Linked DNA regions of Homo sapiens: region 1 is linked to region 2. Evidence: fine-mapped expression QTL. A gene starts in region 2. The other region holds a variant in brackets. All regions are shown on one strand. Distances are from middle to middle. Region 1 overlaps ZNF839 (zinc finger protein 839). Region 2 holds the start of CINP (cyclin dependent kinase 2 interacting protein).

Evidence for each region. PIP is the estimated chance that this variant, and not a neighbour inherited with it, causes the effect.
Region 1: its variant is the best candidate, but not a certain one, in a credible set for the expression of CINP in lymphoblastoid cells (TwinsUK, PIP 0.53).

What each region holds. Positions count from the first base shown.
Region 1 is chr14:102,334,924-102,343,253 of GRCh38, reverse strand. It overlaps ZNF839 (zinc finger protein 839), which reads right to left. Exons shown (of 8, transcript NM_018335.6): 5 at 7,416-7,565; 6 at 4,301-4,438; 7 at 4,031-4,160; 8 at 887-1,931. The coding sequence ends at 1,075. Among named protein-coding and RNA genes, the nearest start is that of ZNF839, 19 kb to the right of the region's middle. The variant C/T (reference allele first, on the strand shown) is at 3,300.
Region 2 is chr14:102,358,046-102,366,375 of GRCh38, reverse strand. CINP (cyclin dependent kinase 2 interacting protein) reads left to right here and starts at 3,486. Exons shown (of 5, transcript NM_032630.3): 1 at 3,486-3,531; 2 at 6,789-6,957. The coding sequence starts at 3,525. It overlaps TECPR2 (tectonin beta-propeller repeat containing 2), which reads right to left and starts at 3,435. Exons shown (of 20, transcript NM_014844.5): 1 at 3,260-3,435. It overlaps LOC124903427 (small nucleolar RNA U13), which reads left to right and starts at 7,474; the gene lies at 7,474-7,577. RefSeq lists silencers at 2,902-2,991, 3,032-3,441.

The sequences.
Region 1 (8,330 bases), 23 kb after region 2:
GCGTAGATCACCTGAGGTCAGGAGTTCAAGATCAGCCTGACCACCATGGAGATACCCCGTCTCTACTAAAAATACAAAATGATCCAGGTGTGATGGCACATGCCTGTAATCCCAGCTACTTGGGAGGCTGAGGCAGGAGAATTGCTTGAACCCTGTGGTGGAGGTTGCGGTGAGCCAAGATCGAGCCATTGCACTCCAGCTTGGGCAACAAGACCAAAACTCCATCTCAAAAAAAAAAAAAAAAATCATTGGCCAGGTGCAGTGGCTCATGCCTGTACTGTAATCCCAGCACTTTGGGAAGCTGAGGTGGGCGGATTGCCTGAGCTCAAGAGTTTGAGACCACCCTGGGCAACATGGTGAAACCCCGTATCTACTAAAATACAAAAAAAAAAAATTAGCTGGGCATGGTGGCATGCTCCTGTAGTCACAGCTACTCAGGAGGCTGAGGCACGAGAATCGCTTGAGCCCAGGCGGCAGAGGTTGCAGTGAGCCAAGATCGCGCCACTGCACTCCAGCTTGGGCTACAGAGTAAGACTTGGTCTCAAAAATAATTAAATTAATTTAATTTAATTTAATTTAAAAAATCATGCAAGTAGAAATGACTTTTTCCCCCTTCTATCAATAAAATGCTGCCCAGAATGACTAGCTTATTTTCTTTTTAATTGAACCCAAAAGAAGCTTCTAGTATGGAGCAAGTCTGGTGGAAAAGCAGCATATCTCCCAGGAGAGAAGGGAAACGGAGCAGGGCCAATCATCAGGTGACAGTGCAGTGCTACTCATCACCATCATGAAAAACTCATGAGCGTCAGACGCGCCACAGGGATTCCTGATCAGGTAATATCTGCTATTATTATGACAAGCTCCATAGAAAAATGTAGACAGCAGGGCAGAAAGACATTATTCTTTATAAATAAAAGGTTCATCTGTGCAATATTCACATTAGAAAAATATACATTGCTTGCCATAGACCTTCTCTGGATAAAATCAGACGAATCTAGGATCTGACTCCACTTCACTGTGAGGGCTCTGGCTCCACGGTGACGACCGACTCCACAGCTTCTAGAGGAACTCCTTCTAGCGGGCCCATCCGCAGGCACGCCCCTCTGCATCAGTCACTGTGACAATGTCCTCCTCCTGAGACACTATTGTACCTGGAGGGGACAAGATAAGCCCATCGGAAGTCTGAATAAAAATCTGCTTCTGTCCCTGAGACAGTAACTCATGGCTCCCATTGGAAATTTCAAAAGCCATGGCTTCGCCGACAGCAACCACGCTCTCCAGTTCTCTCTGGCCAGAGTGCACCTCCATCCCACAGGGGAACCGGTTCAAGTCCCCCGAAAGGCTTCTGAGACACCCTTCAGTCAATAGTGATCCATGTGGGCCAGGCTGAGGCCCTGGCTTGGGCACAGTCCTGTAGGCACAGTCCACTGCCACGCTATCCACAGACAAAATTTTCTCAAGCGGAGGGGCTGCCACCTCTGTAGGCAGGACGCTGGTGGGGCTGGGCTGCTGGTGGTTCAGGTGGAAGTCACAAACCTTGCCGAGGTGTCCTGCCTCTGCATGTCCAGGCCCCCCAGGCGGCAGGGACTCTGCTCCACCACCAGATGACAAAGGGCTGCAGAAACCCGGGCTCCTCAGGCTGTCCCAGGTGTCCTGGTCTGAAGAGTGTTCCAAAGCATTCTCTCCAGGAAACGCTGCCACCTGTGCCTGGGTCAGCCTCCTAGGCTCTCCTGACTGAGCATAAACAGGCAGCCCACTGACATCCCGGGATGAGAGAGCAGCACCTATAGACCCCCTCCTGGCTTCTAAGTTAGCCAGTGCCTGAAGCTGCGGGCCCGCCTGGAACACGCTCCCATTGCCACCAGAAACCGTCGTTGTATGGCTTTCTTCAGAACGGGGAGAGACAGTCACATTTACTGGAGGGGAAAAACCTAAACATTTTGGGAAACAGGTGAACATGGCGTGTACTGTGTCATGGCCCACTCACTGCACTCACCACCCAAAACCAGCTAGGCCAAGTCACCTGCCCTGCAGAAAAGTCAAAGCATCGATGCTCCTTGCTCCTTGGGATTGGTAGCAATTTTAAAAAATACGTCCCTATTCTCTATTCACAAAGACAGATTTTGTATTAAAAATATGCTCTAAGAGCCAATCGACAGTGTGCTTTTTTTTTTTTTTTTTTTTTGAGATGGAGTCTCGCTCTGTCACCCAGGCTGGAGTGCAGTGGCACGATTTCAGCTCACTGCAGCCTCCACCTCCTGGGTTCAAGCAATTCTCCTGCCTTAGCCTCCTGATAGCTGGGATTACAGGCATGCGCCACCATGCCCAGCTAATTTTTGTATTTTTAGTAGAGACAAGGTTTCACCATGTAGGTCAGGCTGGTCTCAAACTCCTCACCTTGTGAGCCACCCGACTCAGCCTCCCAAAGTGCTGGGATTACAGGCATGAGCCACCACACCCAGCAACAGTGATTTTATGCCAATACTGAATGAATGATTGGTGATTCTTCATCAGAGTGAGCTGGAGAATCACCCAAAGAGGCCTTTCCAAATACTCACATCCACACCCTCCCAACAACCCTACCTGCAGACCTGGAATTCCCAGAGGTCCAGGCCCCTGTATTTCACAATAACCTCCCCAGGTGGTTCCAACACATGCCCCAATTAAGAATCACCATCAGGCTGGGCACGGTGGCTGCTCACGCCTGTAATCCTAGCACTATGGGAGGCTGAGGCGGGCAGATCATTTGAGGTCAGGAGTTCAAGACCAGCCTGGCCAACATGGGGAAACCCTATCTCTACTAAAAATACAAAAATTAGCCAGATGTGGTGGTGGGCGCCTGTAATCCCAGCTACTCAGGAGGCTGAGGCAGGAGAATTGCTTGAGCCTGGGAGGCAGAGGTTGCAGTGAGCAGAGATCATGCCATTGCACTCCAGCCTGGGTGACAGAGCAAGACTCCATCTCAAAAAAAAAAAAAAAGGCTGGCGTAGTGGCTCATGCCTGTAATCCCAGCACTTTGGGAGGCCGAGGTGGGCAGATCACCTGCAGTCAGGAGTTTCAGACCAGCCTGACCAAAATGGTAAAACCCCATCTCTACAAAAATACAAAAAAAAATTAGCCGGGCATGATGGCGGGTGCCTGTAATCCCAGCTACTGGGGAGGCTGAGTCAGTAGAATTGCTTGAACCCAGGAGGCAGAGGTTGCAGTGAGCCGAGATTGTGCCACTGCACTCCAGCCTGGGTGACAAAGTGCGACTCCCGTCTCAAAAAAAAAATTTATATATATAATTTTTTAAGTGC[C/T]TAGTTGATAGGTTCTGGCTAGAGCCAGAATAAAAGCCAGGACCTGTCTTGTTTTCAAATGTTAAATCTCAGCTGGCATGTACAGCGAAGTCTCATGAAAGCCAAGCCATAGATGGATGTGTCCTGGGACCCGTCTCAGCCTAACCTCTTGGGACCCTCCTGGTATAGCCTGTTTACTACCATTTGGTGGCTCTCCTTTTTTTTTTGAGATGGAGTCTCACTCTGTTACCCAGGCTGGAGTGCAGTGGTGCAATCTCGGCTCACTGCAACCTCCTGCCTCCCAGGTTCAAGCAATTCTCCTGCCTCAGCCTCCGAAGTAGCTGGGATTACAGGCACACGCCACCACACCCAGCTAGTTTTTTTTGTATTTTTAGTAGAGACGGGGTTTTGCCATGTTGGCCAGGCTGGTCTCGAATTCCCGACGTCAGGTGATCCGCCCACCTCGGCCTCCCAAAGTGCTGGGATTATAGGCGTGAGCCACTGCACCTGGCCTGTGGCTCTCCATTTTAACAAGGCACTCTAGAAAACCCTGAAGACCTCAAGACTCGCAGGGAATGAATCTGGAATGACAGAACACTGGGAGGCTGGAATGAAACTTGAGAAACCAGAGGGTCCCCTTAAATCCAGCACAGGTCACCCAACCTGAAAAATGGCAATCCTGGGTACATCTGTGCATGTCAGCAGGGCTGCCAGGCCATGGATACACCCCACAAACAGCATTTTACCCTCACCAGCGGCCAAAGCATGCAAGGGCCTGGGCTTCTCCCGGCCTCTGCTGTTGGCAGCAAGAGATTCAGTGGTATCGTTGGACAGGGCTTCTCTTCTGGGCCTTTTCACTGAGGCCAGTCCCTCCTCCGCAGCCTGTGAAGAGAAGACCCAATCAGCTAGAATAGGAAGGAATAGGCAAACCGCTACCTCCTCTTCCTGGTGTGAACAGAAGAAGCCAAACCACGCTAATTCACCGTGCACAGTCACCTGGCACCCACTTCAGCCATGCCCACCTCACGTTCCCTCTTCTCGCTGCTAGCTCCCTCTAGCTGCTCCCCATCCATGTCTCGGCTGAGGTGCTTGGGTCCAAGGTTGTCTGGGTGTATTTCTTTCTTCCGTAGGAATTCTGTGATTCCTAATGACTCAGCAACCTGAAAAGAAATGGGCCAAGAGAATAAACTTCACCCAAACAGCACACACCCCCAGAAGCACATTCACATGCAAGAATTAAACGACTTCATAGAATTAAATCTACAAAGTTCCTCACCTACTGTGAGATGCCATCTCAACAATGAGAAAGATGAAGATCAATATAATGTTAGATGGACTAGCTGATGATAAAAATGGATTATAAAAACTAGAAGGTTCTATGTGAGCACAATTTAGAGGAGGAGACCAATCTTTTTTTTTTTTTTTTTTTTTTTTTTCTGAGACAGAGTCTGGCTCTGTCGCTCAGGCTGGAGTGCAGTGGCATGATCTTGGCTTACCACAACCTCCGCTTCCCAGATTCAAGTGATTCTCCTGCTTCAGCCTCCTGAGTAGCTGGGATTACAGGCATGCACCACCATGCCTGGCTAATTTTTGTATTTTTAGTAAAGATGGAGTTTCACCATGTTTGCCAGGCTGGTCTTGAACTTCTGGCCTCAAGTGATCCACCCGCCTCAGCCTCCCAAAGTGTTGGGATTACAGGCGTGAGCCACTGTGCTCAGCCCAGAACAGTCTTTACAAAACATTTAAAACACTCTCTTTAATGCTATCACGAGCTTAATAATGTTAGCTGATACCATAGTAACTTTCTTTCCCACTATCCCTCCTTTACTGACTTCTCACTGGTCTCTTGAGAAAAACGATCCTGCCTATCCCACACCCAGATCTCCCTTCCCAGCTGGTAAAAAGGCATGGGCTTGGGGGCCTGAGCTGGATCCCAGCTTCTCTGCCCATGGCCTGGGTGATCTTGGTGAGCCACCATCTCCTGAGTCTCCCTTGTCCATCTCCCTGACTTATCCAGACAAGAGGTTACAGCTACCTGGAAAGGCTTTTGTGAAGATGAGATTTGACTCCATATGCAATGCCTACGTAAACACCAGATGTGAAAGTGCTAAGAGACAGCTGGTATCATTTATACATGGATGTTATAAAGAGAACCCCACAGAGCATGAGATGGGGGTGGGCACGGCAGGAAGGGCGGCAGAACAAGGTTAAAGGAGAAAACGGGCCATGTGGGTTCTGCGCGGACCAACCTGGATGGTGTCCCCTCACAAACGGAGCCACTGTCATGCTCCCAAGAGGCGATGGCACAGTCTGAGCTGCTGAAAAAGCCGGATTCTGTAGGGCAGGCACAGTGTGTGTGTGCCGAGTTCCGCCTCAAAGCAGGATGATACCCACACTTGCTAAACTCAAGAGTTTAAAAAACACACAGGTGACTGCTGTGGAGGGCATCTACATGAGGCTTAGCAAAAACCTTTTACATTTTCATCATATGTAATTTAAGAAAATAAGGCAGGGCATGGTGGCTTATGCCTGTAATCCCAGCACTTCGGAAGGCTGAGGCGGGCGGATCACTTGAGGTCAGGAGTTCAAGACCAGCCTGGCCAATACGGTGAAACCCTGTCTCTACTAAAAATACAAAAATTAGCTGGGCATGGTGGTGCACACCTGTAGTCCCAGCTACTCAGGAGGCTGAGGTGGGAGAATCGCTTGAACCCAGGAGGGGAGGTTGCAGTGAGCCAAGATGGCACCATTGCACTCAAGCCTGGCTGACAGCGAGACTCTGTCTCAAAAAAACAAAAACACCCCAAAAAATCCAATGTAGCTAAAGGCAATTTGATAATAACAATGACACTGAAATGAGAATTGTGTCGGAACCACCACAAACAAAAATGAATGGCCCCTATATAATCCATCCCCAAAAACCCACATAAGGAAGAAAACAGGGCTAGGCATGGTGGTTCATGCCTGTAATCCCAGCACTTTGGGAGGCCTATAAGGGAGGATCAGTTGAGCCCTGGAGTTCAAGACCAGAGTGGACAACACAGCGAGACCCCTTCTCTACGAAAAATTTAAAAATTAGCTGGGCATGGTGACACACGGCGGTAGTCCCAGCTACTCAGGAGGCTTATGTGGGAGGATTGTTTGGGACCAGAAGGTTGAGGCTGCGGTGAGCTGTGATTGTGCCACTGCACTCCAGTCTGGGAGACAGAGGGAAACCCTGTTTCAAAACAAAAAAAAAAAAAGAAGAAAATGATACCTGAGGTTTTAACTCTGATCATCAGTGAGTGGGAAGATTATGGTGTTTTCCATTTTCTTCTAGCTTATCTTCATTTTTGAGTTTTCTGGAAGAGCATTTATTGCTTTAAGAAAAAAAAAACTGGGGACCGGATGTGGTGGCTCACACCTGTAATCCTAGCACTTTGGGAGGCTGAGGCAGGCAGACTGCCTGAGCTCAGGAGTTCGAGACCAGCCTGGGCAACACGGTGAAACCCTGTCTCTACTAAAATACAAAAAATCAGCTGGGCATGGTGGTGTGCGCCTCTAATCCCAGCTACTTGGGAGGCAGAGGCAGGAGAATTGCTTGAACCTGGGAGGCGGCAGTTACAGTGAGCTGAGATCACACCACTGCACTCTAGCCTGGGTGACAGAGCAAGACTCCATCTCCCAAAAAAACAAAAAGAAAAAAAAATTTTCACTTGATGGGAAAAAGCTAAAATGAGGTCGAACAGGAAAATGTCATTACTAAAAACATTCTCCTTCATACATGGAGTTTTTTTTTTTTTTGGTTTTGTTTTGTTTTTTGAGACAGAGTCTCTGTCACCCAGGCTGGAGTGCAATGGTGCAATCTCAGCTTACTGCAACCTCTGCCTCCTAGGTTCAAATGATTCTTGTGCCTCAGCTTCCTGAATAACTGGAATTAGAGGCATGTGCCACCACGCCCAGCTAATTTTTGTATTTTTAGTAGAGACTGAGTTTTGTCATGTTGGCCAGGCTGGTCTCAAACTCCTGACCTCAAGTGATCCACCTGCCTCAGTCTCCCAAAGCACTGGGACTACAAGCATAAGCCACTGCACGTGGCCCTTCTTTCTTCTGGCTAACTCTATGAGCAAAACTCTTTCTGCCATGGGAGATTGTTACCTTATCATTGTTTATTTCCAGGGTCTCCTGGGAACACAGACCAGAACTACTGAGGTAATCTTGGCACATTTTCTTAACCATTTTATGCAACTCTTCAAATTCCTTATATATAGCTGGGAAAAAAGGCTTTGCTAGATGATCTTTTTCAACCTTCGTGAAGATAAAGACCAAAAAAAAAGTTTAAACTCAAGGCACTGATATGGAAAATACAGAAGAAAATCTAAACAAAGTTTCGGTTCCTTAACCCCTCAGCAGCCCTCAGTGGTGTGCGTTTCCTTCAGTCCCCAGTGAGCACCTACTGTGTGCCCCGCATGGTGCAGAGAAGCCAGGATGGGCATGGGAGGAGCAGGCCAAGAAACAAACAAGCCCTGGGTGGGGGCCATGTAGGGCATGGGTGAGCTCCTGGACAGGGTGGGAAGGGAAGGCAGAAAGGCCCTGAGCCCCGGCTGGACTGTCAGCTCCAGAGGGAGTGTGGGGCACAGGCAGCCTGGGCTGCAGCCTCAGAGTGGGCTCAGAAGGAGCAGAGCCGCGGGCAGAAGAGGCCAGCTGGGGCGAGTGGGTTCTAGGAGAGCCCAGGATAGCCATTATTTGTGGCTGCCACTTCCATTCCTCCTGTACCAAGTTAAAAGTCAAGGGAGTAAACGGGCACCTGCCCGAGACACCCAGCTACCCAGGCAGCGGCCCCCACACCAGGCACGGTGTGTGACCAGCAGGCTCACTTCAGCTGTCCTGCAAAAGGAAAACGATTCCAAATGGCCTGGCTCTTTCCAAAACAACTATGAGCTGGGCACGGTAGCTCACACCTATAATCCCATCACTTTGGGAGGCCGAGGCAGGAGGATTACTTGAGGCCAGGAGTTTGAGACCAGCCTGGGCAACAAAGCTAGATCCCATCTCTACAAAAAAAATTTTTTT
Region 2 (8,330 bases):
TATTTCATCTCAAAAATAAATAAATAAATAAAAATATAATGAATAATGCTTCCTTAGTCATGACTATTTCAGTTAAAAAAATACAAAACACCACCCTATGGCATCCTTCAAGTTACGATGCTTCCTTTCCCCACTAGCCCTGTCAATCTCATAACCCTGGAAGGTGGCAGCTAGCCTTCACTGCTGACTACTAACACCCAACTGCCACCCAGATGGATGATTTCTCAAACTGGAGCTAGGACTAATATAGAGTCTAAGTCATCCACTTCGCTGTACAATAACCATGTTATCAGAGTGCTCTGGGTACACTAATGGTTTCAGGATTCTCTCCAAAATCCCTAGGAAGCAACAATTTGTATCCCTATTGTAGAATCTATGTTTGAAATCTGGCTACGACATCTATTAATTATTTGAGTATTAAATTATTAAGGAGGAACGTAATGAGACTGAGGCAGTCATTTATCTTCCAGACAAAATTTTGTCACTTCCTTGCTCCCATCCCCATTGGCTACCCAATGGTCACAAGCTAAAGCCTAACACAAGCATGGAAATTAGACACTATGACAAAACAGTCTATATCTAACTTCATCTCAGGCCACTCTTCCATCCACACACTGTGCACTCCCTACCCTTTAGCAATCACCCCTCTACACGCTTCTTCTCTCAGCCCTGGGCAACCACTGATCTCCTCTCTGTCTACAGTTCGCCTATTCTGGAGATTTCATCAAAATTGAATCATATAATATGTGGTATTTTGTGTCTGGTTGCTTTCACTTAGCCTAATGTTCTCAAGGTTCCTCCATGTTGTAGCACAAATCAGTACTTCGTTCCTTTTTATTGCTGAACAGCCTTCCATTGTGTAGACAGGCCACGTTTTGTTTGTGCATCCATCAGCTTTCCATCACAGTCCCTGCACACACCATAACCTGTATGTCTCTGCAGAACAAAGTCCCTTTCCACTCTTCCCTATTCCCCCACATGTGCCCTGTAAGAACTAGTCCTCCGCCACCAGGAAGCCTTCATAAATTCCCTCAGATACTTGGTTGGTCTTTCTCTGCTTTCACAGAACTCCATGATGGCAGTTATCGCACAGCACCATCATTATCTGTTTTCTCTCCCCTTCAATGGACTCTTTCTCATCTTCACCTATGTTCTTCTAGTCTGTATACTTTGTGGTGCTTTAAAAGACCAATAAAGAGTATGGTACAATCAATGCTCAATACACGTTTGTTGAATGAATCTCTCTCTCAAAGCACTGTGCTAGATTCACCCAAGTATGACAGCCCTAAATATAAAATAGTGGCAAAAAGTCAATAGAACTCTTATGTCCAGGTCCAAAGAATACATTCATTTTAAATTGAACATGCATCTTGAGTAACAGCTCCCTTCTACCTTAGCAATTCGCAAAGCCATCAACTACTCCCTTCTAATTTTACTGATCTCTCTGTGCATTACTGAATCTAGAAATCTCTTCGTGCTTGACACCAAAGCTTTTCATTATAACCCTTTCCTGATCTATTCCTCATCTTCCCAAGTTCAATCAACTGCCTCTGCCTGATGCCTGTTTCCTTCCTTTTCTTCCCACTAAGTTCCAGTAGCCATTTTTTTCAACTCCTACAGCGGCTAATATGAAATGAAATTCTCCCCAAACTTAAGTGTAACTTCTTTAAGAAAAAATTGGAAAAAAAAATCCAGTAGATGCCAGTCTTCTATTGAAAAAGACACGTGGGTATAATATAGCTGATGCCTAACAAAAGCTACTTCCTAGTCACTCCTTCAGAAGAGGGTTATCCTCATTCCATCTTCCCCACCACTGGTTTTCCAAGGCAGTCCTGAAAATTCAATTTGTGTGTCCCCTACACCTGCACTTAGTTCTCCCTTTTAAAGTTCATGGGCCAGACCATGATCTTTCTGAGGCAGTGACCTCAGGAAGGGTCTGTCTGGTTCACCACAGCATCCCTAGAGCCAGCCTGGCACAGTGCTGGCACACGATGGCCAAATAACCACCAATATGGGACGTAAGTCAGGTTAACAACAACAACAACAAAAATAAGGTCAGAGGTTTATCAAGGTACATTATAGCTGGGTGTGAGAAAACACAAAGTCCTGCAGCCTAAAAGACCAGGAATCGCTGGTGATCACAAGGAGCTACAGTGGCTTCATTCCCAGATTCTACCTATGCCTGGGATTTGCGTTTTGAGATTTCCCAGAACTCTGTCTACAAGACCTTGGCTGCAAGGAGGCAGTCCACAAGTGCAACTGGTCACTCCAATAGATGAGAAAAGGATGCACCCAGGCTGGTATCCCACATTCTGCCAACACATGGAACATAAGTCACAGAACAGAATAAAATTCCTGAATCCCAATAAGAGAGGAAGAAAAAAGTGCAGGGAAGAGAAATGGAGGTAGAGAAGGAGAAACTAAAGTCATGAGAAGTCAGAGACATATCAGAAGGGACTAGAGGGCGAGAACGCAGGCTAGCACAGATGACAGCAGGGGCTCCCCTTTACTGAAATGTACAGCGGCAGGCACCGTGCTTAACTTTACATGCACTGACCCATTTAATCCTCTTACCAAGCCAGAGGTAGAAACTATTCTCATCTCCATTCCACTGGTGATGAAACTGGAGCGGAGTGAGGTAGGGCACTTGCCCCAGCACAGAGCTAGGAAGGGGCCGCTGGGACCTGCCCGGCTCTGACTCCAGGACACCCCATCCTTTAACACTTACTACCTATTCTGCCTCCCATGCCTTCAAATAGGATTGGGAAAGGAGTCATTCACTTATCCACTCATCGAACACTGAACACCAACTGGATGAGTGTCAAGGCCTGGGGCCAGGCGCCGGTGGGCGGATGTAAGGGACGCGGGCTGCGAGTGGGGGACAGAACACGACGTCAATCTTAAGGCGAAGGAGCAGAGCCCGCGGCCAGACCGGCAGCCGGGATGCAGGGTGGGGCCGGGGGCCGAGGGCGCGGGACGCGCAGCGGAGGCCTGAGGAGGGGCGGGCGGCCCCTGTTCCCCGCTGCGGACCGCCGGATTCTGCGGGCGGCGAGCCAGGCGCTCCGTGTGTTGTGGCATTTAGTGTCCGCCACTCCGCGCGGGCGAGACCGCGGGCGAGGGAGACGGGGCGGACGGGCATGGAGACCCTGCGGGGCTGAGGCAAGGGAAGAGTGGCCCGGGGGAGGCCGAGGAGGGGCTCGGGGCCAGGCGTCGGGGGCGTCGGGGGCGTCGGGGCCGCTTGCGGCGTCGCCGGACTCACCTCCCGCGGCAGCCCCTCCGGACTCGTCGGCCCCGCCGGGCCGGAGGAGGCGGGATGGACTCCGGGCCGCGGGGGCTGCCGGGAGCCTGTTCCCTGGGCAACGGGGCCGGCACCGGGGCCAGCACCGAAGAGCAGCAGCTGGCTCCGCCGGGGGCTAGAGCGGCAGAGCCACAAGTGGCAGCGGGCGGGGCGGACGTGACGCAAATGCGTTTCCGGTGGGGTGGGCGGGGCTTCGCGTCTCCTTCTACGGATATCTGTGGACCTTATGGAAGGTGCGTGAGATCGGTTCCTTTCCCGGGGTGGGGTGGCTGTGAATGTTACTGCTTAGGCCGCAGGTTGGACCAGAAGCTCAGGAGCTCCCCGGATTACATGAGGTTAAATGGAGGTCCTCTGTCTTACCCCAGCCTAGCCCGCAGGCCCCTCGCAGCCTCTGCGAGCTGCTCGGGAGACAGTTTTGCCGAGCCTCCGTTTTTTCACATGTGCAGTGACAGATGAACGGGACGATATACGCAAATGAGTGTCAGCAGATCCGACATCCAAATTGTAATTATTGTCACTATAAATTAGTACTAACAGAGTTCACTGGGTACCAAGCCTTGCATGCTCATCTCGTCCAGAAACTCCTCTCTGAACTGCCCTCAGTCAGAACATTCTGCTTGTAATGAAAGCTGGCTTTCGCCTAGTGCTCAGTTTGCTGAGTACTGCTCCAAGCACTTTAAGTGGATCATCTCATTTGAACCTCACAGTGGTCCCATGAAGTAATGTCAACCCCATTTTGCAGATGGGGAATCGAGGCTCAGAGGGGATAAGTAACTTAGCCACTGTGCCCTCACCCTACCCTGTCCTGTGACGCTGATGACTGGTCTGTCTTTACCAGCCCTTGAGTTTCTTGAAGTCAGTTATGTTTTTGGTTCCTAAATATGTGCCCCGTATGAGTCAGGCTGACCATGAATCAGATGTGATCCTGCCCTCAGAATCTCCTGTTGGGGGGAAAACCCTTAGACAATTATAGAACAGGTGGTAAGAGCTATTCCTCCATTTACCTCATTTTATGCAAAGCCTCCTATGTGTGGAAGGTTTGAAAGAGAACGAGACATAGTTCCTACCCTAGTCGAATTTCCAGTTTAGCAGGGAATATAGACATTAAACAAGCAAATACACTCCACTGGTGAATATCATGATAGCAGAATTATAGGGTGTACCACATATCTAGTGGTGAGTCGTAACCCAACCTGGGGGATCCAGGAATACTTCTCTGTGGAAATGACTTTCTAAAAACCTAAATCAGATAATTTCACTGCCCTATCCAGAGCTCATTGCTCACTCCCCATTGTATTAGGTTGGTGCAAAAGTAATGGCAATTTTGGCTGTTAAAAGTAATGGCAAAATCTGTTACTTTTGCACCAAGCTAATACTTAGAAGTCCAAACTTCATTTTTTTATTTTGTTTTGTTTTGTTTTGTTTTGTTTTGTTTTTGAGACGGAGTCTCGCTCTGTCACCCAGGCTGGAGTGCAGTGGCGCGATCTGGGCTCACTGCAAGTTCCGCCTCCCGGGTTCACGCCATTCTCCTGCCTCAGCCTCCTGAGTAGCTGGGACTACAGGCGCCCGCCACCACGCCCGGCTGATTTTTTGTATTTTTTTAGTAGAGATGAGGTTTCACTGTGTTAGCCAGGATGGTCTCGATCTCCTGACCTCGTGATCCGCCCGCCTTGGCCTCCTGAAGTGCTGGGATTACAGGCGTGAGCCACTGCCCTCGGTCCAACTTCTTATCTTGGCCTATTAGGTTCTAGTTGTCTGATCACCTACTCACGCACTAGTCCTTTTCTGTCTATTTCATTCCAGCACACTGGTTTTTTTGTTTGCTTGTTTGTTTTGTTTTGTTTTCTGTTTTTTGAACTCACCAACCTCATTATCATAATTAGGGCACATACTACTGACCTACCCTATTTCTGGCTTTTCATCATTCAAATCTCAGCCTAAACGACACCTTCTCAGGGGATCACACTAACACAAGACCCTGTTTTATTTTCCACACACACTTAATCATGATCTGAACTGATCGTGGTCATTTGTTTATTATCTGCCTCCCCTTTGGAAAGTAAGTTCCATGAAAACGGTCCTGGTCCGTCTCATTCAATCACTTCATTCCCCCATGCCTGGCGTATTGTAGGCAGTAAGCAAATATTTGTTGTTTAAGTAAAGAATGAATGATAAATCAAGATGATATTTTAAAGTGAGGATACTAAGTATGAGGCAGGGGAGTGGGGACACACACAGATAGGAAAAATATTCCAGGTCAAAGTCAGAACTTGTACAGAGCCAGCTCTGATGCACAGAGGGCAAGTGGGAAAGGGTAGAAGCTGAAGTGGTGGGCAGAGCTTGGATAGTAGAGGCCCTTGAGCTAACAGGTGAGATACTGGGTTTTTGCCTTGTGCGAGGCCTCACAGCTTCACATATATTATCTAATCTCAGCAATCCTATGAAATAGATACTATTTTTATTCCCATTTTACAGATGAAAATGTTGAGGCTCTGAAAGGTACATTAAGTTGCCCAAGATCTCACAGCTGGCGAGCTGGGGTTCAGACGCAGGCAGTGTGGTCTTCTGACTTGAGGCATCAAACCATCCAGCTGTTGTGTGTCCTGGATTCCTCAAGAGGACTTTATCCTGTGGGCAGTGAGAAGCCTTTGTGGGGTTCAAAGTAGAGAAGGCAAGAGGGCACAGGAGGGTTCGGGGAGAACAAACAACCTGAGTTGGCTCTTGGTGGTCTGGGGGTTGCTTCCTACAGGCAGTGGGATCCGGGTGCATCTTGGAGGATGGGCATCGTGAGCCTGAGGAAGGAAGGAGCTTTCCTGCAGAGAGAACACGTGTAAAGGCCTGCAGGCACCTCAGCTTTTCAAGAGCTGCCAGTAGTTCATTTTCGCTGGATATTGACGGGGGGCCAAGGTGTGGGTTGATGTACGTGATGATGTGGAGGGGTAGCTAGGTCTGGAAGGATTTTGGACTTCCTCCTGATTACCAAGAAGGGCAGTGGCAGCATCGTGATCAACTCTGCATCTCTGTTGTCTCAGTGTCTTGAAATGATTAGCACTCATGGGCCACGCTACTCTGAGCAAATTTAAAGTATCAGAGTGCCTGAGACTAGATAGTGGAAGTACTCGGGAGTCAGGGCTAGATTATCCTGTAGGGAAGGGAACGTGAGCCATTGAAGAGTTTTAGCAGACAGTCACAACTTTACCTTATTTCCAATCTTTGGAAAACAAAGGGCTTAAGGTAAAAACTTTGTGGAGCCATTAAGCTGGAAGAGGATTCAGCTCTATCTGGTGAATTTTAAAATGTTAAAAATATTCTATATTGTCTTCTTCCAGGAACTTTCACATTCATTCAGACTTTGTAGTTTCCACATTTATTTGTCCAGTTGATACAGCATTTCAGATAGTTTTACTGTTGAAAATTATAAGGACATTTGCCCTCCAACTATGATTGTATATTCCATGATAATAATTTTGTTTCTTTTATACCCTATCAGCAAAGACTCTTGGAACTGTAACGCCCAGAAAACCTGTCTTATCTGTCAGTGCAAGAAAAATTAAGGACAATGCGGCTGATTGGCACAATTTAATCCTGAAGTGGGAAACCCTCAATGATGCAGGTTTTACCACTGCAAATAATATTGCCAACTTGAAAATCAGTTTATTGTAAGTACATATTGGTTTTTCATGCTCTAAGTTTTTCACCCTTAATAACTGGGGAAATAATGTGAATAAATTTTAAAATAAAATATTAAGCAAAAAAAGCAAGTGGTAAGATGATACGTGTAAGTATAAATTGTATTGTACATTTTAAATACAAAATTATATTCCATATATATATATATATATATATATATTTAGTTATTTATTTATTTATTTTTTTGGAGATGAAGTCTCACTCTGTTGCCTAGGCTGGAGTGTGATGGCGCGATCTCAGCTCACTGCAACCTCTACCGCCTGGGTTCAAGCAATTCTCCTACCTCAGCCTCCGGAGTAGCTGGGATTACAGGCGCCCGTCACCACACCCAGATAATTTTTGTATTTTTAGTAGAGACGGGCTTTCACCATGTTAGGCTGGTCTCGAACTCCTGACCTTACGTGATCCACCTGCCTCAGCCTCCCAAAGTGCTGTGTGAGCCACCGTGCCTGGCTATTCTGATTTTTAAAACCACAGATTCTTTGATTCTTTTGTAGTTCATAGGCATAATGATTGGGTTTTCATGCTCATGTATGACCTGTGCCTTCCTCAAACTTTGCTATGATGTTGGCACATTACCTAGCTGATATGGAAAAAACTACCATGAATTCTTTTCATCCATTTTTGGATTTTACGTAAACAAAAAACATATGTTATTGTTTCCTTTATATCTCACTTTCTTTTTCTATTTTTTATTTTTTATTTTTGGAGACGAGTCTCACTCTATCCCCCAGGCTGGAGTGCAATGGCGTGATCTTGGCTCACTCTAACTTCTGCCTGTCAGGTTCAAGTGGTTCTCCTGTCTCAGCCTCCTGAGTAGCTAGAATTACAGATACCTGCCACCATGCCCGGCTAATTTTTGTATGTTTAGTAGAGACAGAGTTTCACCATGTTGGCCAGGCTAGTCTCAAACTCCTGACCTCAAGTGATCTGCCCACCTTGGCCTCCCTAAATGCCGGTATTACAGGCATGAGCCACTGCGCCCAGCCATGTCTCACTGTCTTTCAACATGGAAGCCATGCGTGTAATGTAGAGCCACTATTCTGGTTCTGTTCTTTCTCATTGCTGTTTAATAGTGTTTACCCACATTAGACCTCTCACACTGGTTTATCAACTAAGTTATATAATATTCTCAATCTTTTGTTGTCATTTCAACAGTGTGCACAGTGTCTTTCCCAGGAATAGATTCCATCTCAAGAAACCACCTTCTTTGCTCATCCATAAGAAACAATTCCTTATCTGTTCAAGTTTTCTCATGAGATTGCAGCAATTCAGTTCCATCTTCAGACCCCACTTCCAGTTCTGGTTCTCTTGCTTTTTCCACTGGCAGAGTAGATTTAAC